4 linked regions of the Homo sapiens genome follow. The protein of the gene in region 1 purifies or fractionates together with the protein of each later gene. This does not show direct contact. Each region holds a gene or a part of one and is shown on either strand. Other genes may lie near its edges.

Region 1 (9,506 bases):
CATGCAAATTCATGAAATGCTCCGTATTTTAAAAACCGTGGCACCAGATAGAACCTATCATTACCCACAAAATAGGTGATCTTTGAGATGTTCTAGTCTTACCTTCTTATTTTATAGATGAGGAAACTAAGATCCAGAGATGTGAAGTGATTTTGTCTAAGATAAAAGCTAGATGGTAATTGTTCTCTGGTTGTCTGTTATTGTATAAGGCACTGCTCCAAAATGCAGTGCTTAAAAACAGCAATTTATTGTTGTCTCTAATGGTTCCATGGGTTGATTGTGCTCATCTGGACAATTCTCACTTGGGGTCTCAGAGGGATTTGCAGTCAGTAGTCATCTGAAACCTTGACTACAGCCTATCTTAGGCTGGATATCCAAGCTGGCTAGCAGTTGACACCGGCTGTGGGCTGGAAGTTCAGCTGGGACTGTCAATCAGAATACCTCCACATGGCCTCCCTATGGGGATTGGGCTTCTTACAACTTGGTGGCTGGGTTTCAAGAAGGATTGTCCCCAGAACAAGTCATCCAAAAGATCAGGAGTGAGTGGCAAGGCTTCTTTTGACCTAATCTGAGGAGTTCCAGAACGTCACTACCATCAAGTTATATTGGTTAAACAAGTCACTGAAGCCAGCTTAGATTCAAGGGGAGGCCAAATAGGCCCTACCCCGTAATTTGTCATTCTAGGGGATGAGTTCTAAGAATATTATTTAGGGACTGGGTGTGGTGGCTCACGCCTGTAATCCCAGCACTTTGGGAGGCCGTGGCAGGCGGATCACCTGAGGTCAGGAGTTCGAGACCAGCCTCACCAACATGGAGAAACCCCTCTCTACTGAAAATACAAAATTAGCTGGGTGTGATGGCGCATGCCTGTAATCTCAGCTTCTCGAGAGGCTGAGTCAGAAGAATTGCTTGAACCCGGGAGGCGGAGCTTGTGGTGAGCCCAGATCATGCCATTGCACTCCAGCCTGGGCAACAAAAGCGAAACTCCCTCTCAAAAAAAAATAAAAATAAAAATAATAAAAAGAATACTATTTAGGGAGGCTGAGGTGAGTGGATCACTTGAGCCCAGGAGTTTGAGACTAGCCTGGGGCAACATGGCAAAACTCCACCTCTACAAAAAATACAGTAATTAGGCCGGTGTGGTAGCCACGCCTGTAGTCTCAGCTACTTCAGAAGCTGAGGTGGGAGGACCATTTGAGCCCAGTAGGTGGAGGCTGCAGTGAGCCATGGTCACACCACTGCACTACAGCCTGGGTGACAGAGTGAGACCCTATCTCCAAAAAAAAAAAAAGAATGTTATTCAAATTATGGATTTATATCCAAGAAGATATAAATCACAGTGTCATTCATTAACAGTAAAAAGTTAGAACAAACAAAATATCCAGCAGTAAAGAAATGAGTATATATATTTTGTTCTGTCCCCTGATCGATGGCTGTTTTGCAGCCATTAAAAATGACTGGCTGGGCCAGGCATGGTGGCTCACGCCTGTAATCCCAGCACTTTGGGAGGCCAAGACAGGCAGATCACGAGGTCAAGAGACTGAGGCCATCTGGCCAACATGGTGAAACTCTGTCTCTACTAAAAATACAAAAATTAGCTGGGCATGGCAGCGTACGCCTGTAGTCCCAGCTACTTGGGAGGCTGAGGCAGGAGAATCGCTTGAACCCAGGAGGCGGAGGTTGCAGTGAGCCAAGATCGCGCCATTGCACTCCAGCCTGGGCGACAAAGCAAGACTCTTCTCAAAAAAAATGACTGGCTGGGTGCAGTGGCTCAGGCCTGTAATCCTACCACTTTGAGAGGCCAAGGCTGGTGGATCACTTGAGGTCAGGAGTGCGAGACCAACCTGGGCAACATGGAGAAACCCTGTCTCTACAAAAAATATAAAAACTAGCCAAGTGTGGTGGTGTGTGCCTGTGGTCCTAGCTACTAGGGAGGCTGAGGTAGGAGGATCGCTTGAGCCCTAGGGGTGGAGGTTGCAGTGAGCCAACATTGCCACTGCACTCCAGCCTGGGTGACAGAGTGAGACCCTGTCTCAAAAAAAAAAGGAAGAATCTAAAATAACATTATTTTAGGATTGTCAAAGTATCAGTAATTTTTTTTATTTTTGCAAATTTGTGTCATATACTTTAAAACTTCTTGCATTAAAAAATAAAATTGTAAAATGATTATTCTTCCTCATCTTTGAAATCTCCAATTTATTTACTGCACTTAGCATGGAATTTTCTTAGGTCTTGGCAACACATCCCTGTAAAGCCTTCCACCATTTCACCTTCTCTGCATAAGTTATCCTCTTTGTGTATATTTGCCACACATTGAAAATCCTGAATTAGGTACTTCACACTGCCTGGGTTACCTAGCCTTGCTGCCTAAATGTGGTTTGCTTGTGAAATACAAAGATTTTAACACAAATCTAAGCAAAACATAATGTATGATTTAGCTATGAAAAATTGCACTGGCTGGGTCCATTGGCTCATGCTTGCAATCCCAGCACTTTGGGAGGCTGAGGCAGGTGGATTGCTAGATCCCAGGAGTTTGAGACCAGCATGGGCAGCGTGGCAAAACCCCATCTCTACAGAAAATAGAAAAAATTAGATGGGTGTGGTGGTGTGCTCCTGTGGTCCCAGCTACTCAGGAGACTGAGGTGGGAGAATTGTTTGAGGCTAGAAGGTTGAGGCTGCAATGAGCCAAGATTGTGCCACTGCACTCCAACCTGGGTGACAGAGCAAGACTCTGTCTCAATAAAATAAATAAATTAATTAAAATGACATCACTGGCATTTCAAGAGTACTACAGATGATTTTTAAATTGTCTGATGCTTGGCATTAAGTCGCTGCCTTTTATTTATTTATTTTTTGAGACAGAGTCTTGCTCTTTTGCCCAGGCTGGAGTGCAGTGGTGCAATCTTGGCTCACTGCAACCTCCGCCTCCTGGATTCAAGCGATTCTCCTGCCTCAGCCTCCCAAGTAGCTGGGATTACAGACATGCGCCACTGTGCCCAGCTAAATTTTTTGTATTTTTAGTAGAGATGGGGTTTCACCATGTTGGTCAGGCTGGTCTTGAACTCCTGACCTCGTGATCCGCCCACCTTCGCCTCCCAAAGTGCTGGGATTACAGGCCTGAGCCACCGCGCCCGGCCACTGCCTTTTATTTTATCTTGAGAGTGAGAACTGCTATGTTTTTTTTCAGTATGTTCACTTTTTCCTTTTGAATGTCCTGGCTTCCATTCTAAAACTATGTGAGAACCACAGCAATGGTTTAATAAGGGAATGTAGACAGTTGTCTATTACATGAGGTGTTTTGTGGTTGTTATGAGGGATGTACACTGACACTGCCATGTTCCCTGTTCCTTTTAACTAGGAAGGCGGAGCGTGAAGTAAAAGCATTGGCAAAACTTGATCATGTAAATATTGTTCACTACAATGGCTGTTGGGATGGATTTGATTATGATCCTGAGACCAGTGATGATTCTCTTGAGAGCAGTGATTATGATCCTGAGAACAGCAAAAATAGTTCAAGGTAACTAAAAATAAATTCTCATAGCCATAATAGGATGGAAGGAAATTGTTATTTACTATGTATGGGCCACTGGATAAGGCTATTAATCATCACGATTAATTATCACAATTCCCTCTGAGAGACACTGTTATCTCTCCATTCCGAAGGTAAGGAGAAAGTGAAAATCTCTTCCTTGCTCCTCCTCTTGCTGCAGACTTGCTCTCACAACCCTCTGTTACATCCTCAGCTGTCTGCAAAATCTCAGGTTCAGCTTTCCTGACTCCATTGTTTCATGGAGAGCCTTGTTCACGTGCCGGCTTCAGCGCAGGCTGTTTAAGTGTAGTCTTGTGAAGAGAGTTTTAACATATAGATGCTGCATCTGGGGGCTCCCTCCTCAGCTACCAACACTTTTCTGTCCCTCTCTTAGGCTGTGATTGGTGTGGTGCCGTCAGAGGGTCTCTTTGGAATGTAACTATACCACTTATGCTGGGGTGGTGGGGAGTGAAAATATTTTTAAGACCACAAGCTGAGATGGGGGCACCCTCATGTTTTATGTCAGTTAAGCCATTGCCAAACAACTGGAGATCCTAAAGAGCTGGCATCTGTCTTTGAAAGTCACCCAACCTATTATGGGGACAGTCCTCTCACTAAAATCCTGAGGCCAATGGGGTCCCATTCATTCATTTTCTCCTGCCCCACCTCCATCTCCATGTCGTGTAAGTGAGAACATTATCATCAGTTCAGGAGTTATTGACCGTCAGCATACAGGACTTCAGCTTTCAGCAAATTCTTGGCTACCTCTTCCTGTTTTCAAGCTGACATATATACAAAGAATATAAATGAATATTGAGGCTAACTTAATTCAGAAAAAAAATAAAACGTGGTTAGCAAAAAAAAAAAAAAAAAAAATCAAGCCTCCAATTTATGTATCTTAGTAATTTGTTGGCACTTCTCTTAGAGTACCTTCCCTATTGTTTTAGGTTTGCTTTCCCTTTACTCTCTCCTATTAGACTATTATCCCCGTGACGGCAAGGATATAGTGTCTAACTGATTTTCTCATCTCTAGGTGCCTTTCATGCTTAGTAGATCAATGGTGAATTAAAAGGTTTCAAAGTTACTTTATATAATAATGAAATTTAGTTTCCTGCATTGTATTCATGTTCCTATTTCTATCTGTTAGCAATGGTGATTGCAGATCTTCAGCAATGAAGAATGGGTGGCTCATTTTTTTTTTCTTCTCGTTTTTTTTTTTTTTTTTTTTTTTGAGACGGTGTCTCGCACTGTCGCACAGGCTGGAGTGCAGTGGTGCAATCTTGGCTCACTGCAAGCTCTGCCTCCCGGATTCACAGTATTCTCCTGCCTCAGTCTCCTGAGTAGCTGGGACTACAGGCGCCCGCCACCACGCCCGGCTAATTTTTTGTATTTTTAGTAGAGACGGGATTTCACCGTGTTAGCCAGGATGGTCTTGATCTCCTGACCTCGTGATCCACCCGCCTCGGCCTCCCAAAGTGCTGGGATTACATGCGTGAGCCACCGCGCCCGGCCTCTTCTTTTTTTTTTTTTGAGACAGAGTCTTACTCTATCGCTCATGCGGGAGCACAATGGCGTGATCTCAGCTTACTGCAATCTCTGCCTTCTGGGTTCAAATGATTCTCGTGCCTCATCCTCCCGAGTAGCTGAGACTACAGGTGCCGCGCCACCACACCCAGCTAATTTTTGTGTTTTTAGTAGAGATGGGGTTTCGCCATGCTGCCCAGGCTGGTCTCAAACTCCTGAGCTCAAGCAATCCGCCAGTCTCGGCCTCCCAAGGTGCTAGGATTATAGGCGTGAGCCACCGTGCCCAGCCCAGCTCATATTTTATAAATTAGCTAAACAAATAAAGCTCTGGACATCCGGGAACTTATGATTGAAATAAAAAATGGCCTATTATATTTTGATTCAAATTTGTTTATTATATTTAGATTTCTATTTTGTGACATGTTTTGGGGTTCTTTTTTTTTCTTTTTTTTTTTTTTTTTGTGAGACGGAATCTCGCTCTGTCACCCAGGCTGGAGTGCAGTGGCGTGATCTCGGCTCACTGCAAGCTCCGCCTACCGGGTTCACGCCATTCTCTTGCCTCAGCCTCCCCGGAGTAGCTGGGACTACAGGCGCCCGCCACCACGCCTGGCTAATTTTTTGTATTTTTAGTAGAGACGGGGTTTCACCGTGGTCTCGATCTCCTGACCTCGTGATCCGCCCGCCTCGGCCTCCCAAAGTGTTTTTGGGGTTCTTAAGAAGATAAGGTATAAGCTTTTAAAAAGTTATGAAAAACTTTAAAAAGTTATAAAAAATTTTTTATAAATTTATATTTATTGTTACTTTTAACATACTGTGAATTTTATACCCAGGTCAAAGACTAAGTGCCTTTTCATCCAAATGGAATTCTGTGATAAAGGGACCTTGGAACAATGGATTGAAAAAAGAAGAGGCGAGAAACTAGACAAAGTTTTGGCTTTGGAACTCTTTGAACAAATAACAAAAGGGGTGGATTATATACATTCAAAAAAATTAATTCATAGAGATCTTAAGGTAAGTGGAAAATGTACTTTATTAATTGATATATATATAATATAGTAATTTTAAAATATATCTTCTCAGCTGGGCACAGTGGCTCACGCCTATAATCTCAACACTTTGGGAGGCTGAGGCAGGCAGATCATCTGAGGTCATGAGTTCGAAACCAGTCTGGCCAACATGGTGAAACCGTGTCTCTACTAAAAATACAAAAATTAGCTGGGCATGGTGGCGTGCGCCTGTAATCCCAGCTACTCGGGAGGCTGAGGCAGGAGATTCGCTTGAACCTGGGAGGTGGAGGTTGCAGTGAGCCAAGATTGTGCCACTGCACTCCAGCCTAGGTGAAGAGTGAGACTTGTCTCAAAAAAAAAAATTATATATATATATAAAATAAGATAGATAGATATATATTTTTTTCTCTAGTTTTAGAATAGTGGTTGATTGATAGTTATGAGAAAATGGTATCTGAACATTTCCATGCAAATAATTACTGTGACTGGCACAGCCAACTGGCTGCTCTGCCCCTGTTCCTCCTGCCTCCTCTAAGTGACTCAGCTTTATTTGAGAGGCAGAGGGGACTCTGTTGACTGTTGCTTTAGGAATATGGTTCCCTAATCTCTCAGTCATTACTCGCGAGGGCTGTCACAGCTACTGGGTCCAGAGTCTAATACTGTCTTGGTTAAGCATTTCAACCCCATGATTGGAAAATTGCGGTAATCCCGGACTGGGAAAGTGTATCATCCCTTAGTATTTTCATTTTCCTCTGGCTTTTATGGTCCGGACAAGGAGTTTCCCTATTTTTTACTTCTCATTAAAATGACAGAAGGTGAGAGACAGAATAGCCCTTCACAGCCTTTCCTCCATTCCCTATTCCCTGTGACTTGCCTAAGCCTGTCACAAGCTGGCCGTCCTGAATCCTGTCCCTGGACCTTTGCTCATGTTCTTCTCTCTCATGGGACACTCTTCTGCCTGCCCCCTTTGGTTGTAATTCCTTTACTGAGCCTTTCCTGATCACTCTGGAACTGCCTTTTTCTGTTCTAGGCAGAAGTACCTTATTTATGTGGCTATCTGCTTATCCCACCCCTCTAAAACAGCAAGGAATAAGGAATGAAACAAAAAAATTCCTTGAGAGAAATAAGTTCCCATATACACAGTTGTTTATTGGGCTCAGAGAGGAATGAGTAGCCCTTAAAAGGTATTGCTTCCGTGGTCTGCCCAGGGGCTGGATGTCTGATGCATTGGTGTTTTGAGTCTGTCTGGTTCCAATATGTCTCTTCTACAATATCTGAAGTTGTTCTTTGAAGGTGGAACATTGTCAGAACTATTTCAAAAGGATAAATGTAGAGTTGGTTATGCTTTCACTTTGGGATAAATCATACATATAGTTAAATAACAAATAAGCACAATTATTTCTATATAAAATAATTTGCAAATAAATGCAGAAGTGTAGGCATTAAGCTCCTAGTCCTCAGAATGAATTAGCAAAATTCTGACTGGTGCCTACCCACTTACCTGCCAACTATGCCCCACACCGTGTGTGCCCTGTGTCATGGACTGATCTTTTCTTGTGTCTATTTGCAGAGAATTTTTACTCTGGCTGCAGTTGCTCAAGGGTCAGACTTTATTATTCTTCTTAAATTTTTAATTTTTATTTTTTTTTGAGACAAGGTCTTGCTCTTTTGCCCAGGCTGGAGTGCAGTGGCACAATCACGGCTCATTACAGCCTTGACCTCCTGGGCTCAAGCAGTCCTCCCACCTCAGCCTCCCGTATAGCTGGGACCACAGGTGTACACCACCACACCTGGCCATTTTTGTGTGTTTTTTTTTTGTAGAGACAGGGTCTCACCATGTTTCCGAGGCTGGTCTCAAACTTTTAGACTCAAAGTGATCCTCCTGCCTCAGCCTCCCAAAGTGCTGGCATTCCAGGTGTGCTCCACTGCACCCGGCCTCAAGCTTTGATACTGAGACTTCTTTCATCTTCTATAACTTTTCAGGCTCTCACTACTACAGTTGTTGATTTCTCTCCTCTAAGAAAAGATACAATGAAGGTGTACAATTTTGGGGTTGTGTTTTGCAAAATAGCAGCTGTAGGTGGTTTTGCCAGAGAATGGTCTTTACCTAACACAGCCCCTCTTACAAAAGTCTCCAAGTGTTTACCACTTTCTGTTGGAATCTTAGGAACTAGACCAAAGGCGCTGGGAAGGGACATAGGGGTTTCTGGAGTGAGGGCTTCTTGTGCAAGGCTGCTTCTCTCTAAAATGTTCAGTCTCCTAAAGCCCAGGCTCTGGTCATCCTCAGCCTGAGCATCAGTCCTGTTCCTGTGCCTCCTAGGTGAAGTTTGCATCCCTTTTATATGATCTACAGCCCTATATTTTGTCTAATCATATTATAACTGATTAGACAAAATGTGGCATTATTGTTTTTATTTCTTTTGTGTTTTACAAGGTCTCACTCTGTTGCCCAGGCTGGAGTGCAGTTGTATGATCTCAGCTCACTGCAGCCTGGACCTCCTAGGCTCAAGCAATCCTCCCACCTCGGCCCCCCACATAGCTGGGACTACAGGTGCAGGCTACCAAGGCAGGCTAATTTTTGACATTTTGTGGAGACAGGATTTTGCCATGTTGCCCTGGTTGGTCTCGAACTCCTGAGCTCAAGTGATCTGCCGACCTTGGCTTCCCAAAGTGTTGGGATTACAGGCATGAGCCACCATACCCAGCTTCTTTTTCTTTTCTTTTTTTCTTTTTTCTTTTTTTTTTTTTTTTGAGACAGAGTCTCCTCTGTTGCCCAGGCTGGAGTGCAGTGGAGTGATCTCGGCTCACTGCAGCCTCTGACTCCTGGGTTCACGAGATTCTCCTGCGTCAGCCTCTCGAGTATCTGGGATTACAGGCGCCTGCCATGATGCCCAGATAATTTTTTGTATTTTTAGTAGAGACAGGGTTTCACCATGTTGGCAAGGTTGGCCTTGGACTGATGGGCCCACGCTGTCTGCCCGCTTCAGCCTCCCAAAGTGCTGGGATTACAGGTGTGACTCACCACGCCCTGCCCACTTTTTCTTTTGAATGAACTACAAAAAGTGATCTGATATTTTCACTAGATAGCCTCATCCAGCTTAGATATTTACACGGCTTCACAAATTCAATTTTCTGTTTCTTAGAGTCAGGTGATAGCCTTATGTGGGACTAGCAGTTTCACTTGCAATCCTGACATATTCCTACACATTGCAACTTGAACATAGCATAGGAATGTTTTCTCTCCACATCCACTCCACATCTGTCTACAGCTTTCCATCTGTATTACTGGTGTTAGGCTCCAATCTGACTGTTAATTGAATTCTAATCCAACTGCTAATTGCTGTATGAGCCGTCATCTCAAGCTGGCTTCTCGGAAGCTCCTCCTTCAGCCTTCCCTGGGCTTATGGTCTCTTCCCTCTTAGGTCCTTACTAGGTAGGCCCTCTCA
Region 2 (6,303 bases), on another chromosome or scaffold:
TTTCCTCACCTGTAAAACAGGAATGTCTCATAGAACTGCTGTGGAAATTTGATTAGACAATGTATATAAAGTGCTTGGGAAATAAATGTTCAGCAAATGTTGCGTATTATTAGCTCAAATGTTGCTTATTATTAGCTAAGTCCAAGTTCTAAGTCCTTTCTTTTATTGGCTTATTACTTTCTTTTACTCAAACCTTACTCCTTCATTAACAGTTTATGAGAAATTATGCTATCATTTTGCATTTATCATTTTGGGGATCCTTGATTACCCTTCTAATAAATTTTTGAGATCTATTTTATAACTTTGTATTTCTAAGATTAGACTTTTTTCAGTGTTTTAAATCAGTTTTGCAAGAACTCAGATTCCAAGCCCTATATTTTATTAATTCCTACTCTTTTGCTAAAAGCTGAATGACTATCCATTTCTGTTATTTTCTCAGCTTAAGATGTGCCGTATCCAAAGCCAGTGGCTCTTTGCTAGCTTGTGTATTGTCGCTTTTCTCACAACTCATGGAGACCTCTACAGCACCAGCATTTCCTGGAAGCTCTGCCCATAATTAGTTTTGCAGAAGTGCAGCCATGTTACATCACTGCTCAGGAGGTCATGCAGTTGCACATTCTGTACTCTACTTTTATGAGAGAAAAGCACATGGCAGGAAGGCAAGCTGATATCAGGTATTTTATTTTTTTAAAGAAAGCAAGTTCCAGGGTATATATCTTGGGGTCATTATACATGTGGCCCAATGCAGTACACCTACAACTGTAGCACAGGCTATAATTAAATATATAGACTTTACAAAATACTCCAGTAATCAGAGTTGAAGGAAGTAAAATTTAATACTTTACTTACTTTTTTGCCTTTATTAAAGGCATTTAAGTTTTTTAGCGGATGTTAATGTTTACAAATGTCACCACAATACAGGTAATTTCCAATTTGAAGTGTAGTTGCTTGCAAAAGTATATCTGACAGACATTTTCAATGTATTTTCTAGAAGGAACACATTATATTTTGTTTTGAGACGGAGTCTCATTCTGTCGCCCAGGCTGGAGTGCAGTGGCACAGTCTTGGCTCATTGCAACCTCCGCCTCCCAGATTCAAGCAGTTCTCCTGCTTCAGCTTCCCGAGTAGCTGGGATTTCAGGTGCGTGCCACCATACCTGGCTAATTTTTGTATTTTAGTAAAGACGGAGTTTCACCATGTTGGCCAGGCTGGTCTCGAACTCCTGACCTCAAGTAATCCACCTGCCTCGGCCTCCAAAAGTGCTGGAATTACAGGCATGAGCCACCATGTCCAGCCAGAATACATTGTATAAGAAAATTGATTTCAATTATAATGTACCTGTGGTACTTAACTACCAAGGATTGGGAACTGTTTGACCATAATTTTTCCATCTGTTGGATAAGAGCTGAATCAGAATGTCATTCTAAGCTAATAGTGGCTATCATCCATGACCTAAAACGGACTCTTGTTAGGGGACTGAAGATTGGCAAAGGGAGAAGCTAGAGGCCATATAGAAGAGGAAAGCATGAAGGTAGAAACCACAATCAGGACTGCCTTCAAATATGAACTTCCAGGGATACTTCTTGGTTCTGGGTAGCTCCCCCACCACACTGTTTTCTTTTGCTGTCCTCAGGAATCAGCTTGCTTGTTTCGTTTCATTGCTATCATCTGTAGTTTCTAATGAGTTTTTCACTTTCTGTGATCTCTACAGAACAGATTTTACTTTTCTCTCTTCTCCCCTACATTTGTGTCTGTGAAGTATGCATGCTGGTGTTTTTACTACTTTTAAGGAAAGAGAAGTATTTAGAAACAAAAACGTATTTCATCTGTCTTTGCCACAAGGATTTTTTCCTCCCTAGTTACATTTTCACGGGAAAAACAAGTTGTACATAAGTGCATCTTACATTTCAGAGGAAAGTCAGACTGGAGTTATAGTGGACTTCTTATCATTAGTTAGGTAGAGGTAGAGGCAGCAGCCTGGTCTTAACAGGACTCTGCCTCTGTAGGGAGGGATGAGGAAACTAAAGACTACAGGAGTCAACTGCACTGGGGTACTGGGTTACAGGAAGGCTAGTGATCTTGCTAACCTAGAAGACTAGAAAGTAGAGGAAATTCATATGCCCTTTTCCTGAGTTTGAAAAGGCTTTGTTCTTTCATCTCACAGGGAGACTTCAGCACAAATGATAGAAGAAAATTTGAACTGCCTTGGCCATTTAAGCACTATTATTCATGAGGCAAATGAGGAACAGGGCAATAGTATGATGGTAAGTTTTGTGTGGATATGGGTGCCTGCTTTGGCTATGTTGGGTGCAAAAGGTTTAACTTTCCATGCTAGCCTTATCTGGCATTTGGGATGCATATGGGAAATAGAAGAACTCAAGAGGAAAGAGCATTTGGGGAATATCCTCAACCTTAAATCCTTATCTGCCGTTACTCAGGGATATACTAGGATTATGTCATCAATTATCTTCAATAATAGCATTTTTGGTCAAATTAAATGAGTGGTAAGCTTCTTCACAATGTGACCATTGAAATTGAATGGTTTGTTCTGTACCTTTTTGCTTCAGCAATCAATTTTCTCCATTAAGATGGGACTTGTACTTTAATTCAGATATGGTACCTCCCGAATAGAAAATAAATTATGTTAATATAGTTGTAATAATAAGTGTGTGTTAAGATTTGGTTACTATAAACTACTGATTTGTTAAAACTTGAGGAAATTACCATAAAATGTCTACTGAATCAATTTTTCCTGCATTTAGTCTTAATGTCAATTCTGTACATTTCCTCTTTCATTAAGAAAAATAGCAGTGGCCAGGCATGGTGGCTCACGCCTGTAATCCTAGCACTTTGGGAGGCCAAGGCAGGTGGATTGCTTGAGCCCAGGAGTTTGAGACTAGCCTGGCCAACATGGGAAACCCTGTCTTTATAAAAAATATAAAAATTGGCCAGGTGTGGTGGCACACACCTGTGGTCCCAGCTACTTGGGAGGCTGAGGCAGGAAGATCGCTTGAGTTCAAGAGTTTCAGGCTGCAGTGAGCCGTAATCCTGCCATTGCACTCCAGCCTGTGACAGAGTGAGACTTTGTCTCGGGGAAAAAAAAAAAAAAAAAGGATAATGGTGGCCAGCCATATGACATGTACCTGTAGTCCGAGTTACTAGGGAGGCTGAGGCAGAAGGATTGCATGAGCCCAGGAGTTCAAGGCTGCAGTGCATTATGATTGGACTTGTGAATAGCCACTGTACTCCAGCTTGGCAACATAGCAAGATCCTGCTCTCTTAAGAAAAAAAAAAAAAAGAAAAGAAAAGGAAAGAATAATTGTTTACTTCAAATATTTATGAAAAAAACTCTGAAATTTTTTTAAATCAGGAAATAAGGTAAATGAAATGATTTTTCAACTTTTGATTATGAAATGTCCAAACAGAAAACTTGCAAAAATGAACACCCATATACTTATAACTTATAGTCAACATCTAATTGTAACTTTTTCATGCCTGGTTTTAGAATCTTGATTGGAGTTGGTTAACAGAATGAGTTGTCACTTGTTCACTGTCCCCAAACCTATGGAAGTTGTTGCTATACATGTTGGAAATGTGTTTTTCCCCCATGAAACCATTCTTCAGACATCAGTCAATGGAAGAAATGGCTATGAACAGAAACTACATTTCTACTATGATCAGAAGAACATGATTTTACAAGTATAACAGTTTTGAGTAATTCAAGCCTCTAAACAGACAGGAATTTAGAAAAAGTCAATGTACTTGTTTGAATATTTGTTTTAATACCACAGCTATTTAGAAGCATCATCACGACACATTTGCCTTCAGTCTTGGTAAAACATTACTTATTTAACTGATTAAAAATACCTTCTATGTATTAGTGTCAACTTTTAACTTTTGGGCGTAAGACCAAATGTAGTTTTGTATACAGAGAAGAAAACCTCAAGTAATAGGCATTTTAAGTAAAAGTCTACCTGTGTTTTTTTCTAAAAAGGCTGCTCACAAGTTCTATTTCTTGAAGAATAAATTCTACCTCCTTGTGTTGCACTGAACAGGTTCTCTTCCTGGCATCATAAGGAGTTGGTGTAATCATTTTAAATTCCACTGAAAATTTAACAGTATCCCCTTCTCATCGAAGGGATTGTGTATCTGTGCTTCTAATATTAGTTGGCTTTCATAAATCATGTTGTTGTGTGTATATGTATTTAAGATGTACATTTAATAATATCAAAGAGAAGATGCCTGTTAATTTATAATGTATTTGAAAATTACATGTTTTTTCATTTGTAAAAATGAGTCATTTGTTTAAACAATCTTTCATGTCTTGTCATACAAATTTATAAAGGTCTGCACTCCTTTATCTGTAATTGTAATTCCAAAATCCAAAAAGCTCTGAAAACAAGGTTTCCATAAGCTTGGTGACAAAATTCATTTGCTTGCAATCTAATCTGAACTGACCTTGAATCTTTTTATCCCATTTAGTGTGAATATTCCTTTATTTTGCTGCTTGATGATGAGAGGGAGGGCTGCTGCCACAGACTGTGGTGAGGGCTGGTTAATGTAGTATGGTATATGCACAAAACTACTTTTCTAAAATCTAAAATTTCATAATTCTGAAACAACTTGCCCCAAGGGTTTCAGAGAAAGGACTGTGGACCTCTATCATCTGCTAAGTAATTTAGAAGATATTATTTGTCTTAAAAAATGTGAAATGCTTTTATATTCTAATAGTTTTTCACTTTGTGTATTAAATGGTTTTTAAATTACTTTCTTGATCTCTATTCATTATAAAAATCAGATTATAATAAAACAGTTGAATATGGCTTAGGAAAATATGAAGGTTCCATGAAGTGGAATTAAGAGCATAGAATAACTGTACTTTCCTTAGGAATAATAGGACTTATGGTAAAGGTAGTATTGGGCAACTTCTTTAAGAGTGTTTTCCTCTGAGATGTCCTATCACCACTATCTACATCTAAAAAACATGCTCGATTCTTGCCCTATAAACTGATGTCACAGCCCCACCATCCCCATTTTTGCTAGTGGTATCATTTTCCTAGTCAACCAAATTTTTTAGTCATCACATATCACTGTTCGTCATCTATTATAATAGGCAGTCTCTCTCTTGTTTCCCTGGTTTTAGAAGATTTTAGTAATAAACATTTATTGGGTACCTGTTACTTGGAGGGTATTAAGCTAGATGGCAAGATCTGAAACAACATAGGCAGTATAGTAAAAGTGCTTATCTGGGAGTCTGAACATTACAAGCCATCCAAGCATTGCAATTATTGTTAAGGATTATTTTCAATGGTCATGCATTTTCTAATATTTTAATAATTGGTTAAAGATTTGTTATAGCGTGGGGGCCGCTGCTGGTGTGTGGCTGGGGTTATGTCAGGGCAGCCTGATCTATATAATTTGGGCAGATGGTGTGAGTCAGAACAGACTATTATAGTGGGATCCCCAAACTTGCTTTTGATGCATGAGTTGGACCACTATTTTTTGGTGGGTAACAACTTTTCAGAGGGGAATGGCAGTTGTGAATTGTATACATTTCATTCTTTAAGCAATATTATGAAAAACTTCAGAGAATGTCTACAGAAAACAGGGTATGGAGCAAGTTATTTTCCATTCTTTTTGCTTTTTGGAAGTTAAAATAGCTAAGCTCTGCAAATATCATTTATTTGGAACAGATAAGGTCCCAGACATTCCTAGATAATAAAAATCAAATGAATGATACAGGTAAGTGTATTTATTGAAGGGTGTGGGTAGAGTGGTCTGGGAAGTCTTGCTTTAATGAAGACGGATTGATTCTATTTACCTCTTCTTACTTCCACTACTAAGTAACCCTGGGCCTGCAGTTTCCTAACCACTTGACTTCCTTGCCAACAGTCTGTCTCCACTTTCAGCCGTTTTATAGATTCATTGGCCCTAAAGCACTGCTTTCCCATACTTCCCTACCCAAGAGGGCAGGGGTCCCCAAGCCCTGGGCCGCGGACCGGAACCAGACAGTGGCCTGTTAGGAACCAAGCCGGATAGCAGGAGGTGAGCGGCGGGCGAGTGAGCATTATCGCCTTGAGCTCTGCCTGCTGTCAGATTAGCGAGTGGCATCAGATTCTCATAGGCACGCGAACCCTATTGTGAACTGCACATGTGAGGTTTGCCGGCTCCCTGTGAGAATCTAATGCCTGATGATCTGAAGTGGAACAGTTTCATCCCCAACCCACACACACCCCCACCCCGTCCGCTGGGTTAGAGGACTTTACAACCCTAGTCCACCTTGTCCAGTTATAGTTCCACCTC
Region 3 (6,574 bases), on another chromosome or scaffold:
TACATTCAGCCCTCCATAGCCATGGGTTCAGCATCTGTGGATTCAACCAACCTTGGATCAAAAATATTGGGGAAAAAAATTTGAAAATATTGCAAAAGGAAAACTGAATTTTCCGTGTGCCGAGAACTACATTGAATCCATGAGAATGAGGTGATGCATAGCATTGTATTCGGTATTATAAGTAATCTAGAGACTATTTAAAGAAGCGGTCTGGCACTAGAGACTAGTTTCGTGGATGACAATTTTTTCATGAACTTGGGGAGGGGATAGTTTTGGGATGAAACCGTTCCATCTCAGATCATCAGGCATTAGATTCTCATAAGGAGCAGGCAACCTAGATCCTTTGCATGCATAGTTCCATGCATAGTTCACAGTAGAGTTCGCACTCCTATGAGAATTTAACGCCACCACCAATCTGACAGGAGGTGGAGCTCAGGTGGTAATGCTTGCTTGCCTGTCACTCACTTTCTGCTGTGCGGCCTGGTTCCTAACAGGCCACAGATTCATAGTGGGTTCGTAGCGGTCTGTGGCCTGGGAGTTGAGGTCCTCTGACTTTAAAGGATACTGGAGGCGAGTGTAGGTTATATGCAAATGCTGCACCATTTTTATATAAAGGACTTGAGCATCTGTGGATTTTGATATCTGTAGTGGGTCCTAGAACTAATCCTCTATGGATACTGAGGGATAAGTATATTTAAATAGTACCCTGGGGTCTCAAGCTGGATTTTAGGGAGCTTTTGTCGTGGTAGTAGTTCACCTTCTTACTGTGAACTCTGTACAAATTCTCACTGACAACTTCTCATCCTTTAACTAAAATGTGTATGTTTGACTGAAAAGGCTAGGCACCTGGTATCTGCCTGGGTTTTTATTGTGTATGTGGTATACTAGAAAAGGACACTGAGGCCGCATACTGGTTTCCAGCCTCAGTCTACTGACAGTAGAAATGGGGAGAAGTTTGTCTTCTTTCCTGGGCTACAAATAGGCAGTTTGTATAATGAAACAGACAGCACACTGGGAGCGGGAAGGTGACTTTCAATCTCTGGCTTCACTCTGGCACTTTTGGTAAAGTGCTCAGCCTGTGGGCCCCATTGTCCTCAGGGGTTGGAACTGATGATTTATAAGTTCCGCAGTTTAAAGAACAGGGAATATCTGTTCCCTGCTCTAGCGAATCCTAAGTAGTGGTCATTCCAGATTCAAATGACATGAACTGACAGCATTTTGTGTTGTAGATTCGACAGAAGCTGCAGACTAAACAGGCTGCCATGGAGAGGTCTGAAAAAGCTAAGCAACTGCGAGCACTTAGGAAATACGGGAAGAAGGTGAGAAGAAAAGTGTGCAGGGAACAGGAAGAGGCGGAGTGTGTGTTAGATGAGATTGCCGTGGTCTGACTTGGTCCCCTGAACTGAACGGAACTGTGTGTTGATCATGTATTTACCGTCTCTCAGTGTATGTGCTGGTATTCATGAGCACAATCTTGCCTGGACATGAGTGGTTCCCCAGGAGTAGTATGGTGACTGCAGGTGAGCCAATCACCTCTCTGGGCGTTAGTTTTCACATCTGTACACTGGGTCCAGATGAGTGGTTTCCAAACCTGACCTTATAGCAAAATCACCAGGGGAAATTTTTCAAAACAGAATTCTAGACTTCAGAATCCCCAGGAATCTGTGCCTGTTTTCCCCTCTTCCCCAAAAGCTTTCCAGGTGATTCTGAAATGCATCCTGGTTTGGGATTCACTGATCTATGTGATAATCACGTACCTGAAGAAATTATCATAATGATTGTCATCCAATCTGAAAGATTGCCTGCGTGTTTGAACTATGAATGTCTGAGTTCTAATGTAACACCAGATCAGGCATACCCTAAAACTTTTCTTGGTTTTCCTTTTTTATTTCATGGTCATCTAAGAAAGAAGATGACAGATTTTAAAGTTAGGATTGTGGGAAGAAATGAATGTGAGGAAGATTGGTGTGGGTGTTAAGACTTCGTCAACATTTGGACATAAGCACTTGTGATCTGGGCTGCAGAACTCTTGTCCACGTTTGGAGTCATTTCACTGATACATTCTCAGCAAAGTAGGAATAGGCTGGGATCCTGTCCTCTACAAAAGGCCTGCTGCGGATTTATTATTTCTTTGATCTGGAGGTGGATGGCTGAGATTCTCTCAAAGACACCAGTAATTAATTTAACATAGCCAAAGTTACCAAAAGCAAAGACAAACTCACTTGGGCCTATTAGTTCACTGTTCCTAATTTAAGGAAACACTGGGGAAGAGTTTGTTAACTGGGGGTGAATTTGCTCCCCAAGAGTTTTCTGTGACTGCCTGGAGATATTTTTAGTTGTCAAATTTGGGAGGGAGGGTACTACTGGCATCTAGTAGGTAGAGGGCAGGGGTGCCGCTAAATATCCTACAGTGTAGGACAGGCCCCTACCCCCCAGCAAAGAATTATTCTCTCCACACTGTAGCAGTATCAAGATTGAGAAACCCTCTGTTAGAGTATTATAAAGTGTCTCCTTTTATCCTTCAAACTTTTTTCTTTTCTTTACCTGGGGACATTGTTTTTTTCTCTTCCTTTTGGTACTTTCATGCCTAGTAACAGTGAGTTAGATAATTAATCTGTCCAAATGTGATGCGAAAAATCGATGTAGTCTTAAACATGATTTACTTCAGTTTTGTAGGCAGGATTGTATAATAGGGTGAGTGCTGGCTTTGGAGTCAAACAGCCTGGGTCATCTTGGCTGTGCATTTTTTCACTGTGCGACTTGGGCAAGTTAACTTCCCTGTGCTTCAGTTTAGGGGATAACACAAATTTCAACTTCACTGGATTGTTATGAGACAGATATATCTTCATCTATGAAGAATATACCTAGATCTGAGAATATACTTAGAGTCCCTAACACAGTTTTTGGCACGTAGTAAATGTCAGAGGGTAGTGGTATTAATCATGGTGTTGCTATTAAGACAATGTAGACACTGGAGTAATGGTATGGAATGGCTGTAACGGTCCTTGTGTTCATATCACAGGTGCAAACGGAGGTTCTTCAGAAGAGGCAGCAGGAGAAAGCCCATATGATGAATGCTATTAAGAAATATCAGAAAGGTTGGTACATCTCTAATAGGGGAACGAGGGTAGCAGGTACTTTAGAGTTGATTTGAACACTTAGTGCTTTGGAGCCTTCTTGGTTGATGTGGACCTGTCGGATCAAAGTTTTGGGAATGGTGTTGGAGAGCAGGATGTGACTCTTAAAATCAGTGTAGCAAATAACAGCCTCATATGGTGGTTTAAACTTTTATTCTTAAAATACAATGGTGCTGATCAAAACTACTTCTTCACTTACAGGCTTCTCTGATAAACTGGATTTCCTTGAGGGAGATCAGAAACCTCTGGCACAGCGCAAGAAGGCAGGAGCCAAAGGCCAGCAGATGAGGAAGGGGTGAGAAGGGTTTTGGCATGGTTTCTTTGGTTCTGTGAGGTGCGATGGGGCCACAGGTCACGAGTATGGCAGACATAGCACCTCCACCGGCGCAGCCATAGAGTCCAGAGAGTGCAGCTGCTGCCTGGGGCCAGGACCCCTATGACTGTGTGATGGGCCCTTTTAGCCATGTCAGTCTTTGAAGAGTAAAAGAAGGCACTTTTTAAACTTCTTTTTTTTTTGGACAGTCTCATTCTGTCACTCAGGCTACAGTGCACTGGTACAGTCTTGGCTCACTGCAACCTCTGCCACCTGGGCTCAAGTAATTCTGTGCCTCAGCCTCCTGAGTAGCTGGAACTACAGGTGCCTGCCATCACACCCAGCTAATTTTTGTATTTGTAGTAGAGACAGGGTTTCACCATGTTGGCCAGGCTGGTTGTGAACTCCTGGCCTCAAGTGATTCACTCACCTCAGCCTCCCAAAGTGCTGGGATTATAGGTGTGAACCACTGCACCCATCCTAAGAAGGTACTTTTAAGTATGTGGCACCCTTTAAGTGAATGCTGAGTAAAGTTGATTCCCCATCACACAGTGCGATGGTTGAGAGTTCAGACCTAGGGTTCAGATCCCGACTCTACCACTCAGTAGGAGGGCAGTTTTGAACGAGTTACCATGCCTTTCTAAATGCTAATTGCCTCATCTGCTAAGTTGAGGAAATAGTGTCTGCCTCATAGTATGAAGACTGAAAGAGAGAATGTGGGCTCTCATTGTTTTTTCTAGTCTGCTTTTTTGCATACCTGGATACCAGGCCTAGGGGAAATGATAATTTCCATGTAAGATAGTAAGTGCTATGATAGAGGCATTTGGGGATTAGTACTGAGTCAGCTTTTATAAATACCTGACAGGGTCTGGGGTGGATTTCTGGAGGAGCGTTCGACTTGAGCATTGCTTGAAGCATGAGTAGGAATTAACCACGAGAATAGAAGAGAAGCTGGGTTTGGGAAGAAGTAAGAGCTTGAACGAGCAAAGCCATCGAGATGTGAAACCTCAGGGTTTTGTGAGGAACAGTAAGCCCTTGGTGTCACTGGGAATACAGTGCAAAGCAAGGAGGGGTGCAATGTGTTTGGGGGGACCTGGGCTGTGGGTTTGCCTTGTTGAGGAGCTTGGGCTTTGTCAGAAGGCAGTGGAGAGACTAGGTTGTAGGTTGTACTAACAGTAATGAGCAGGTTATATTCATGTTTTTAAAAAGATCACAGTGGATTTTGTATAAGTGACAGACTTGAGGGAAGCTGGGAAATTGACAAGGGTACTATTGCAAAAGTCGAGATAAGGATTGAAGAAACATTTAAGAGGTGAAATGAGCAGGACTCAGTAATTGAATTGGGTATAAAGAGTGAGAGAAGAACCAAGGCTGACTCCCACATGTTTAGCCTGTGTGTCTGGGTTGGTGGGAGCAGCGCCAGCCTCAAGTGAGGGCATATGTACAGGAAGCAGAGCCAGTCCAGGAGATGATGTGAATTTGGAGATGCTGAATTCAAGATTCCTATTGGATGACCAGTTTTACATTTGAATGTTATTCCATTTGAATGTTATTTGAATGCCTATAATTACATTTGAATGTTTACATTTGAACGTATTCATTACATTACATTTGAATGTTACAAATGTAACATATTACATTTGGATGTTAACTGCATGTATTTACCCTTGAGAGGAATAGACACAACTGAGGGTGATTTAATAAGATTTGGTTAAAATAGAAAGCTTTCTAAAGACAGCAGGAAGCCATGTAATATATGTAGAGCCTTCCCTGCTTCTTGCTTTATTTTCCTGCCCTGGTGGTCAAAACTGTAAATAGGTGAGCTAGATGAGTTTGTCTAGAGAGGCTGTAGCATAGGATTGTGGGGCCAAGGATGAGATTCTGGGTTACAGACGTGCCTAAGGGGCTTTGCTTATAGAAAGGAAACTGAGAGCATTGCTGGGCCATCAGGTTCATCAGGCTTTACAGTGCTGTAGTGATGTCTAGGACCATTCTTTTCCAGGCCCAGTGCTAAACGACGGTATAAAAACCAGAAGTTTGGTTTTGGTGGAAAGAAGAAAGGCTCAAAGTGGAACACTCGGGAGAGCTATGATGATGTATCTAGCTTCCGGGCCAAGACAGCTCATGGCAGAGGCCTCAAGAGGCCTGGCAAGAAAGGGTCAAATGTAAGTGAGCCCAGGTGCCCGGGTGAGGAGCAGGCTCAGCCTCCCCTCCCACTCCCAACCCTGCCCTCTCCCTTCAGTTCTGTTCGTCCTCACCCTGGGGCAGAAGGCAAGCTGCTATGTGACCAGATGTGGTATGTCTTTTTCTGTAGAAGAGACCTGGAAAACGAACAAGAGAGAAGATGAAGAACAGAACACACTAAATAGCATCTTTGAATACAAAGAACCAAGAAAAAGGAATGAAGACTCGCAATTTCACGACACACTTTGATCCCTTCTGTTGGTGTCATGTTGTAAACATTTCTTTCAATAAACTAAAGAAAAATTATTAAAGGAACACATACCTTTGGTTAAATAGTCTAGACTAAAAGATTGAGAAGTTACTTTCCATTGCTATCTATTGATAATTTAGACATTGAGTTCAAATTGCCTTCATTTTATGATAAATAATGATTTAACTGACACCTTCTCATTTCCTTTGTCTCATCCTTCTAAATAGTTATATTACGATCAATCCCTGTAAAGCTCAATGCCCATATTTTACAGGTGTGAGCCACCGTGATTTTCTTTGTGGTACAGCTTTTGGTTTTTCCTCCAGTTAACCTTCACCTTACATTCTTCTGCTTGCCTAATTTTCCTTCTATATTCTTAGTTCTTTCCAGATGCTTTGTCATTTTACCCACTTTATAATTTTTCTCCTACAACCTAGTTATGCCACACAACTGTCACCTTTTTTCTAGACCGTTTAAGTTGGCACCATTATTTCCAGAATCCCATGTTTTCCCATCTTAGCATATGCCTTCTTTTGCTGTGTACCATTTTTTGGTATCTTACTAAGAAAGGGAAGATGAGAGGTAAACTTTTTATCTCCTTGCATTTCTGAAATTGCCTTTAATTTGGGCTGATAGGAATTTCCTCCTTAGAATTTTAGAATTTCGCAGGCACTGTTTTTAAGTTTTATT
Region 4 (9,506 bases), on another chromosome or scaffold:
AGGCATGAGCCACTGCACCTGGCCAATAAAGGATTCTTTGTTTTTTTCCTTTAGTGGAAGCCGTGCACTGAGGGAATCCTAAAAGTAAGACCTACAAGAAAAATCAGCTATGAAGGCAAGTTGCCTCACCCCTTAAGGCACCAAATTTAAATGACCTAGACATACTGAAATCCAGGTTTCCCTTGTAAATTATTTGTAAGTGAGATAAAGTGATATTCAGTGATTACATCAGAAGAATAAAAGCTTCAATTAATTTTTTCTTTTTTTGAGACGGAGTTTTACTCTGTCATCACCCAGGCTGGAGTGCCATAGCGTGTTCTCGGCTCACTGCAACCGCAACCTCCCGGGTTCAAGTGATTCTCTTGCCTCAGCCTCCTGAGTAGCTGGGATTACAGACACGTACTACCACACGTGGCTAATTTTTGTATTTTTAGTAGAGGCAGGGTCTCACCATGTTGGCCAGGCGGGTCTTGAACTCCTGACCTCAGGTGATCTGCCCGCCTCTGCCTCCCAAAGTGCTGGGATTACAGTTGTGAGCCACCACACCCGGCCGCTTCAATTGATTTGTTAAATTCCAAAGTAGTGAATCTCAAATCTTTGGGGTGCATCAGAATTACTTTGAGAACTTAATAAAAATAGAAACGCTCATGCCTTAAATCCTATCACTTTGGAAGGCTGAGGCGAGAGGATCACTGGAGCCCAGGAGTTTAAGACCAGCCTAGGCAACATAGGGAGACCCTGCCTCCGCAAAAATTAAAAAATTACCCAGGTATGGGCCGGGCATGGTGGCTCACGCCTGTAATCCCAGCACTTTGAGAGTCCAAGGCGGGCAGTTCACAAGGTCAAGAGACCAAGACCATCCTGGCCAACATGGTGAAACCCCATCCCTACTAAAAATTCAAAAATTAGCTGGGCGTGGTGGTGCATGCCTGTAGTCCCAGCTACTCAGGAGGCTGAGGCAGGAGAATCGCTTGAACCTGGGAGGCGGAGGTTGCAGTGAGCTGAGATCATGCCACTACACTCCAGCCTGGCGACAGAGCAAGACTGTCTCAAAAAAATAAAAAAAAAAAATTAGCCAAGTATGGTGGTGTGTGCCTGTAGTCCCAGCTACTCAGGAGGTTGAGGTGGGAGGATTATTTCAACCCAGGAGGCTGCAGTGAGCTATGATTGTGCCATTTGAGCTCCAGCCTGGACAGCAGAGCAAGACCCCATTTCAAAAACTGAAAAAAAGGGTGGTTATGTTTTCAAACAAGAGCCCACAAACACATTGCAGCATCAAAACAAACATTGTCTTAATTTGTGTGAAGTACTGCTGTGTGTTTAAATCAAGTTTGCAAAATATCTTTCATGAGAAGTAATTGGAAGAGAATTTTGAGGCTGGACGTGGTGGGTCATGCCTGTAATCCCAGCACTTTGGGAGACTGAGGCAGGTGGATCACTTGAGGTCAGGAGTTCGAGACCAGCCTGGCCAACATGGTGAAACCCTGTCTCTACTAAAAGTACAGAAATTAGCCGGGCATGGTGGCAGGTGCCTGTAATCCCAGCTACTCGGGAGACTGAGGCAGGAGAATTTCTTGAACCCAGGAGGTGGAGGTTGCATTGAGCCAAGATCACACCACTGCACTCTAACCTGGGGACAGAGTGAGACTGTGTCTCTTAAAAAAAAAAAAAAATTTCAGTGCATACACACACAATCTCTTTTTTTTGTTGTTGTTTATAAAAAACAACAAAAAAGGATAAGAAGGGGATGACAGGATGAATTATCAAGATAAGACCAGGCCTCTTAAACCATGACCATAGAAAGTGTTCAAGGTTCAAGTGACATATTACAGTCAATGTCAGGTTTCATGAATTTGAGAGCTCACACTTTTCATTTCTAGGAATTTACAGTACTGCTGACACTTGGAAATCAGCAATGGGGAGCTGAGTGAACTGGTATTAAAAAGGTCAAACACACAGCTGCTGCTAAAGCTTTGGAGGGAACAAAATTTCCTAAGCCCATAGTCAGCCCTTTTGGTAGCGAAGGAAGGAATCCAGGTCTTATGCATGGGCCAAACAGGTACCTTTCAAAAGTGTGTCTAGAGGTACCATGTAGTATGTATATGAATGGTTTCTTAACTTGTTGATTTTGAAAGCACAGATTCTACACTACCAGTGACAAATGCTTATTTTTTAGGAATCCTTAACCTCATTGTAAAGCAGTGGTTTCCAATCTATGATGCCTTAACGCCTGACAATCTGGAAAGGCGGTCATAGGAAGGATGGCGGGTGACCAGATAATTTCAAAGATTTCCGAAGTTTAATGAAAATATATTTTTGATAAGAGTGTATAGATTAGCAAGAATATAAGTTTAATTTAGAGTCACATCAAGTCAGTGTGGTAATATTGATTGTAATTTTGTTGGTCAGAAGTGCTTATTGCCAGTTGTATGTCTCTTAGTTATTAAAAAGAATGAGAAAAATGTAAATATTACTTAAATACAAGCCAGCAGGTAGTATCTCCTCAGACAAGGAGCCCATTCAGGGAGCATACTAATCAAGAAGGCATGGCTGGTGAAGGGTTGGGGATCAGTGACCTGGAGGCTGTGTCATTAATGGCTGTTTTAGCAGAGACCCCCTCACATGCATGAAGTCATCCCAGGTCTTCGTATGTAGGAAGGAATCTGGGAAGTTACCAGTCACATCTTTCTTGTTACTTTTGATTTCTTTGCAGTATACTTTCTTCATGTTTATTCTCTATTGCAGACAAATTCTGTGGATCAGAGCTGCTCTTAAAATGATTCAGACTGTACTTAAAATGCAATTATATGAATTTTGTAAAAAATATAATTCTAATGCAAGGAAGAGAGAGATCTGTAATTCATGTGGCCCTCTGTGCAAACCCCAAAGATATTCTTATAGATTTGATTCATGCATTAAATTTAGTTGAACCAGTTATAGTACAGAATCAGGTCTTTTTTATTTCTCTCTATATACATCCTAAAGAGGCATTTTAAAGTGGATTTTTATGTGCATTTAGATTTTGCCATTTCTAGTGTTCTGTTTTTGATATGAAAGTGTTGTTTTTAAATATTGTGCACTGACACTAATCTTTCCAGGCTGGTTTTCTTTTTAAATGGTTTTTAAAGGTTTATGGATTGGATGAACTGAAAGAAAAAAAAATTGGAAAATGAATAGCATGTATTTTCTGAAGTTGATAATTTTGAGATAACTTGTTGTGTATGAAAATGGAACTCATTTTCGTAGCAAGTATGACCACAGGTCAAATTCATTAGAAATGTCAAGAATGGAAATACCTGAATATTTTGTGGGCCTTGTGTGACTTCTGTGAAGAGAATTGGGTTGCCACCTCCTCACTGATTTTTCACCTTTAAGTTGCACATCATGTTGTATTGTAACTCTTTGAGTGTGCTTTGTGTTTTTTGAACTCCTCTGGGGCAGGAATTGTGTTTCTTTTTTTTTTTTAAGACAGAGTTTTGCTCTTGTTTCCTCATCTGGAGTACAGTGACGCAATCTCGACTCACTGCAACCTCTGCTTCCTGGGTTCAGGCGATTCTCCTGCCTCAGCCTCCTGAGTAGATGGGATTACAGGCATGCGCCACCATGCCTGGCTAATTTTTTGTATTTTTAGTAGAAACGGGGTTTCACCGTGTTAGCCAGGCTGGTCTCGAACTCCTGACCTCAGGTGATCCACCCGCCTCGGCCTTCCAAAGTGCTGGGATTACAGGTGTGAGCCACCCTCACTGCAAGGTCCGCCTCCCAGGTTCACACCATTCTTCTGCCTCAGCCTCCTGAGTAGCTGGGACTGCAGGCACCCGCCACCATGCCTGGCTAATTTTTTGTATTTTTTAGTAGAGATAGGGTTTCACCATGTTAGCCAAGATGGTCTCGATACCCTGACCTTGTGATCCTCCTGCCTTGGCCTCCCAAAGTGCTGGGATTACAGGCGTGAGCCACCACGCCTGGCCAGGAATTGTGTTTCTTAAGCTTAGCACAGTGCTTTGCATCCAGTTAGTAATGTAATAAATGCATCGTTCAATACTGTGTACGGACATACTTCTGAGTGCAAGCCAATAATCCTGTAAATCAGTACAACCAAGGTTATATTGATTAAGTATTCTCAAACAGTAAAACAATTTGGACATTTACATGGGATTTTTTAATCGTGAAATTTGATGTGTTTTGGAACTTATTTCTGACAGCTGTACCATATAGCTTTCACTGATAATGTCTTGGGTTAAATTGTGGCTCCTCTGGTAACCCTCAGAGTAGATTTTGTGCTGTCGACTGTGTATAAATATCTAGAAATCACAGCATATTCTTGGATTTCCTTGTCTGATGCCTAGCAGTGAGCCACCCAGGTCCTTTTATGTAAAGTATCATGAATCCAATTAGCAGAAAGCATGCTATTACATTTTATTTTAGTGAGTATCATTCTCATACCAGAAAAAAACAGTTCTTTGTCGATTCTTTCTTGCAGAAAGCATAACCCCTACTGTAGAACTAAATGCACTGTGCATGAAACTTGGAAAAAAACCAATGTATAAGCCTGTTGACCCTTACTCTCGGATGCAGTCCACCTATAACTACAACATGAGAGGAGGTGCTTATCCCCCGAGGTATGTGTTTTTTTTTTTTTTTTTTTGTAAAATACAGGAGAAAACGTGTCTGATCTTTTACATAAACCAGTACCTCTAGATTGTGGAGGGAGTAATGATTTGGTTTGGGCCTGCCAAGTGTTGAAGTTGGTCTTAATTACTCTTGTGCCTTTGTGCCCCTCCCCCGCCTTTTCTTTTTTTTCTTTCTTTCTTTTTTTTTTTTTTTTTTTTTTTTTTTTTTTTGAGACAGAGTCTTGCTCTGTCACCCAGGCTGGAGTGCAGTGGTGCAGTCTCGGCTCACTGTATCCTCTGCCTCCTGGGTTCAAGTGAGGAGGCTGTCTCAGCCTCCCGAATAGCTGGGATTACAGGCACCTGCCACCACGCCTGGCTGATTTTTTTTTGTATTTTTTAGTAGAGACGGGGTTTTGCCATGTTGGCTGGGGTGGTCTTGAACTCCGGACCTCAGATGATCTGCCCACCTTGGCCTCCCAAAGTGCTGGGATTACAGGCGTGAGCCACCACACCTGGCTGCGCCTCTTTTTTTTTTTTTTAATTCATTGAGACAGGGTCTCCGTATGTTGCCCAGACTGGTCTTGAACTTCTGGGCTCAAGGAGTCCTCCTGTCTTGGCCTCCCGCAGTGCTAGGATTAAAGTGTGAGCCACCACACCCGGCCCTTTGTGCTTCTTTTTTTTTTTTTTTTTCTGAGACGGAGTCTCGCTCTGTTGCCCAGGCTGGAGTGCAGTGGCATGATCTCGGCTCACTGCAAGCTCTGCCTCCCGGGTTCATGCTATTCTCCTGCCTCAGCCTCCCAAGTAGCTGGGACTACAGGCGCCTGCCACCACACCCGGCTAATTTTTTGTATTTTTAGTAGAGACGGGGTTTCACCTTGTTAGCCAGGATAGTCTCAATCTCCTGACCTCATGATCCGCCCACCTCGGCCTCCCAAAGTGCTGGGATTACAGGCATGAGCCACCACGCCCGGCTCCTTTGTGCTTCTTTAACTACTGCTCTTGGGTAGGGCCTGAGCATATTTCTTGCTGGCAGTGTGGCTTGTGCCCTCAAGCAGCCTGGCTAAAGATAACCCTTGTAACTGCTTTGTGTAACTGAATCATATTTAAACATGATTCCCATAGCATCATGATTCCTGCAAGACAATGATTCCCAGCATTTGTAGATTACCTGATTATTGGGTACTTTTTGACTTTTGAACTTGTGCGTTTTGTAAATAGCTTTGGTGCAATAAAATATTAATTGAAACCTGAAAATGCCATGGATTAAAAATCTTCTGCTGGCAGTAATAAGACATTAGTGGAGGCCAGGTGTGGTGGCTCACGCCTGTAATCCCAGCTCTTTGGGAGGCCAAGGCAGGCGGATCATGAGGTCAGGAGTTTGAGACCAGCCTGGCCAACATGGTGAAACCCTGTCTCTACTAAAAATACTAAAAATACAGGCATGGTGGCAGGTGCCTGTAATCCCAGCTACTCGGGAGGCTGAGGCAGGAGAATCGCTTGAACCCAGGAAGCGGAGGTTGCAGTGAGCCGAGATCGCACCACTGCACTCCAGCCTGGGCAACAAGAGAAACTCCATCTCACAAAAAAAAAAAAAAAAAAAAGACATTAGTGGATAGATGATGAGCAAAATGGAATTCTTCATTTCCCTGCTCTCTGTTGGGGGATAGTCATTTTAAAAATATAAGCTATGAAATGGATAAGAAACTGGGTTCTGCTAGGGAAATGGATAAGAAACTGGGTTCTGCTAGGTAGGCTACAGCTTATTGGGATTTCTTGAAATGAGGGTCCTTTTGAAAGACTTGTGCATTAAAATTCCCAGCCTCCTATTGGAGACATGCAAATTTAAAGCTAAGGTTTGAGAAGGCAGAGCAAGCCAAGTTTTTGTCTCAGCCAAAGCCTAATTCATTTTAGATTTTGTCAGTGCAGGTTAGTGTGATAAACTCATAATTTATAAGCCATTGTATTTTGTGAGATGTAAGTTTGGATTGCTAAACACTCTTTGCTTATACTGTGTAGCAATTCTAATCCAGTTTAAGCTTTTATGAAATCTCTGGATATATTGATGAAGAGTGATTAGCATCAAACACTAATGTGAGTAGGATCGTGATGAAGGAAATACTTGCATTTGCCAGAGAGTGTATAGGTGACTTATCAACTTGAGACTGTAATTTGCCTAACCTCCTTTTATTTCTAGGTACTTTTACCCATTTCCAGTTCCACCTTTACTTTATCAAGTGGAACTTTCTGTGGGAGGACAGCAATTTAATGGCAAAGGAAAGACAAGACAGGCTGCGAAACACGATGCTGCTGCCAAAGCGTTGAGGATCCTGCAGAATGAGCCCCTGCCAGAGAGGCTGGAGGTGAGGAGTTGAGCCCAGGCTCCCTGACGCTTCGACAGGGTAGGAGGGTAGTGGGGAGATGTCACCGCACATTATCTTTTCTAAGAAGGCACATTGACAGCTGTCCATAATTTTTATTTGAATGCCTCCAAGATTTTATGCTCTGTAGCTTTCTTGCTTTTTACTCCTTTTTTCCTTTTAAAATTTCTTAACAAGAAAGTCAGTTGCCTTCTTTTTCAGTCTGTAGCATGGTTTTGAGTGACATGATACGGTGTGAACACGTTAGAAAGTTTGTGATTCAGTTGAGTTGTGAAGAACATGTATGGATGAAGTCTTCGGTGCTCAAGATTATGCTTGCCAGAATCTACTGTGATATATGGGTACCAGGTTAGAGGATTTTCTGAAGCTGTTTTTTACCAGCCACTCTTGATTATATAGAAGCGCCAGTTACCTTTTGCCTCATAACAGACCATCATAGAATTTAGTGATGGTTTAAACATCTCCAGGCATTTATTTTGCTTATGAGTCTGTGATTGAGGCTGGGCTTGGCAAGGGTGTAGCTTGTCTTCGTTCCACACAGCTTTGGTTGAAGTGGATCTGCACGGGGCCGGAGGATCTGCTTTTAAGGTGGCTCACTCACGTGGCTGGTAAGTTGGTGCTTGCTGTCAGCTAGGAGCTCAGCTGGGGGTTCTGGCCCCAGGACCTCAGTTCATCCCTGGGTGACCTATGGAAGGATTGCTTATACTTCTTCATGTTATGGTGGCTGGTTGCCAAGAGTAAGCATCCTAGAAGATGGGAAATGGAAGCAGCTGCCAGTTTCTTAAGGCTTAGGCTCAGAAATCACAGCATCGTGTCTGCCATATTCTACAGGTCAAGCAGTCATGGAGCCCAGATTCAAAGGAAGGAGATATAGAATGTCACTTAGAAAAAAAAAATTGAGGTGGCTGGGCGCAGTGGCTCACGCCTGTAATCCCAGCACTTTGGGAGGCCAAGGCGGGTGGATCATGAGGTCAGGAGATTGAGACCATCCTGGCTAAGATGGTGAAACCCCATCTCTACTAAAAATACAAAAAATTCGCCGGGCGTGGTGGTGGGCGCCTGTAGTCCCAGCTATTCGAGAGGCTGAGGCAGGAGAATGGCATGAACCCGGGAGGCGGAGCTTGCGGTGAGCCGAGATTGTGCCACTGCACTCCAGCCTCAGGGACAGAGCGAGACTCTGTCTCAAAAAAAAAAAAATGGAGGTAAAAATTATATAACCTAAATTGACTATTGTAAGTGTACAATTCAGTGGATTTTAGTACGTTCACAATATGGAGAATCCCATTTCCAGATGATGAAAGGATTGTCAAAGAATTAGGGGCCATGTTTTAAAACCACCATGATAGGAAAAGGATTTTAACATTTTTGTGACTAAATAGCAATATAATTCTTAGGGAATCAGTAACTCCATGCCATTGAGGGGTCAAAGCATTAGTGAATATCTTTGGCCAGGCAGAATCTTATCACAGATAGAGTCACAAAGTCTAGAAGAAGTCCAGTGAATTGAAAACATTGAGATTTCATAATTCTGTTTAATCACAACAGGAAATGCCACCTGAAAATATCTCTGGGTAGCATTTGACTTTTCTTCACCAGGAAACATGTTCACAAAGAACAGGAGGATCCTGCACAGAACAGTGGGCTATGTGATGAGAGGTGTAGACCCGAGTGGACCTTGGGCAGGGTGCCTGCTGAGTCTGTTGTATCCAGCTGCCACCCAGGGTGACCCAACTTGGGCTTCATGGCTGGCCGCACAGGAGCGATTTGTTTTTCTTTTGTTACGCTGCATTTCCATTTTCCGCTATAATCACCTATTCTAACAGATGATCTGTTTCCAGGGCTCACTAAGGACCAAATCAAAGAAAATGAGGCTGTAACTAAAAGAGGAGGATTTAGTGAAGTTAAAAGAATGAGCTTTTCAGTGGTGAGATTTGTTAAAACACCAAAAAGGTAGTGTAATTTGAGTTATTTTGGAGGCTTTTCAGCTTTTTACTTGACTGTTGCTAATCTAATTGGAGTCAGATGGAGTAGGTATTTCTAGTCCTTCCAGCCAATAGTTGATGAACAATTGCTGGACACTGCTATATGGCTTTTCTGCATCACAATCACTTGAGAAGTTAAAAAAATAAATTCTAGGCCCAACCCCGGGATTCTAATGCAATAGGTGTAGGGTGAGACCCAGGAATCTGGCTTTTGCTTTTGTTGTACTTGCTTGGGGGTGTGTGTGTGTGTGTTTTGAGACAGTCTCTCCCTGCTTTTGTTGTTCTTGCTGGTGTGTGTGTGTGTGTGTGTGTGTGTGTGTGTGTGTGTGTTTTGAGACAGTCTCTCCCTGTCACCCAGGCTGGAGTGTAGTGGCATGATCTTGGTTCACTGCAACCTCCACCTCCTGGGTTCAAGCAATTCTTGTGCTTCAGCTTCCTGAGTAGCTGGGACTACAGGTGCTCACCACCACGCCCAGCTAATTTTTGTATTTTTAGTAGAGATGGGGTTTCACTGTACTGCCCAGGCTGGTCTCAAG

What was found.
Region 2: the proteins of EIF2AK2 (region 1) and CHUK purify together in Homo sapiens (affinity purification with western blotting; 3 studies listed by BioGRID). This does not show direct contact.
Region 3: the proteins of EIF2AK2 (region 1) and EBNA1BP2 purify together in Homo sapiens (affinity purification with mass spectrometry; 2 studies listed by BioGRID and IntAct, with this or other methods). This does not show direct contact.
Region 4: the proteins of EIF2AK2 (region 1) and STAU1 purify together in Homo sapiens (affinity purification with mass spectrometry; 4 studies listed by BioGRID and IntAct, with this or other methods). This does not show direct contact.

The regions. Positions count from the first base shown.
Region 1 is NC_000002.12:37,116,517-37,126,022, reverse strand, and holds part of EIF2AK2 (interferon-induced, double-stranded RNA-activated protein kinase), read left to right. Parts: intron 1-3,358; coding exon 3,359-3,517; intron 3,518-5,883; coding exon 5,884-6,064; intron 6,065-9,506.
Region 2 is NC_000010.11:100,186,830-100,193,132, reverse strand, and holds the end of CHUK (inhibitor of nuclear factor kappa-B kinase subunit alpha), read left to right. Parts: intron 1-439; exon of another isoform or gene 440-674; intron 675-991; exon of another isoform or gene 992-1,140; intron 1,141-2,164; coding exon 2,165-2,264; intron 2,265-3,505; coding exon 3,506-3,535; 3' UTR 3,536-3,624; coding exon of another isoform or gene 3,625-3,705; 3' UTR 3,706-4,833; downstream 4,834-6,303.
Region 3 is NC_000001.11:43,163,684-43,170,257, reverse strand, and holds the end of EBNA1BP2 (probable rRNA-processing protein EBP2), read left to right. Parts: intron 1-1,229; coding exon 1,230-1,319; intron 1,320-3,022; coding exon 3,023-3,098; intron 3,099-3,338; coding exon 3,339-3,432; intron 3,433-5,452; coding exon 5,453-5,615; intron 5,616-5,764; coding exon 5,765-5,815; 3' UTR 5,816-6,074; downstream 6,075-6,574. UniProt on the Homo sapiens protein: Required for the processing of the 27S pre-rRNA.
Region 4 is NC_000020.11:49,149,046-49,158,551, reverse strand, and holds part of STAU1 (double-stranded RNA-binding protein Staufen homolog 1), read left to right. Parts: intron 1-54; coding exon of another isoform or gene 55-115; intron 116-4,480; coding exon 4,481-4,619; intron 4,620-6,804; coding exon 6,805-6,970; intron 6,971-9,506. UniProt on the Homo sapiens protein: Binds double-stranded RNA (regardless of the sequence) and tubulin.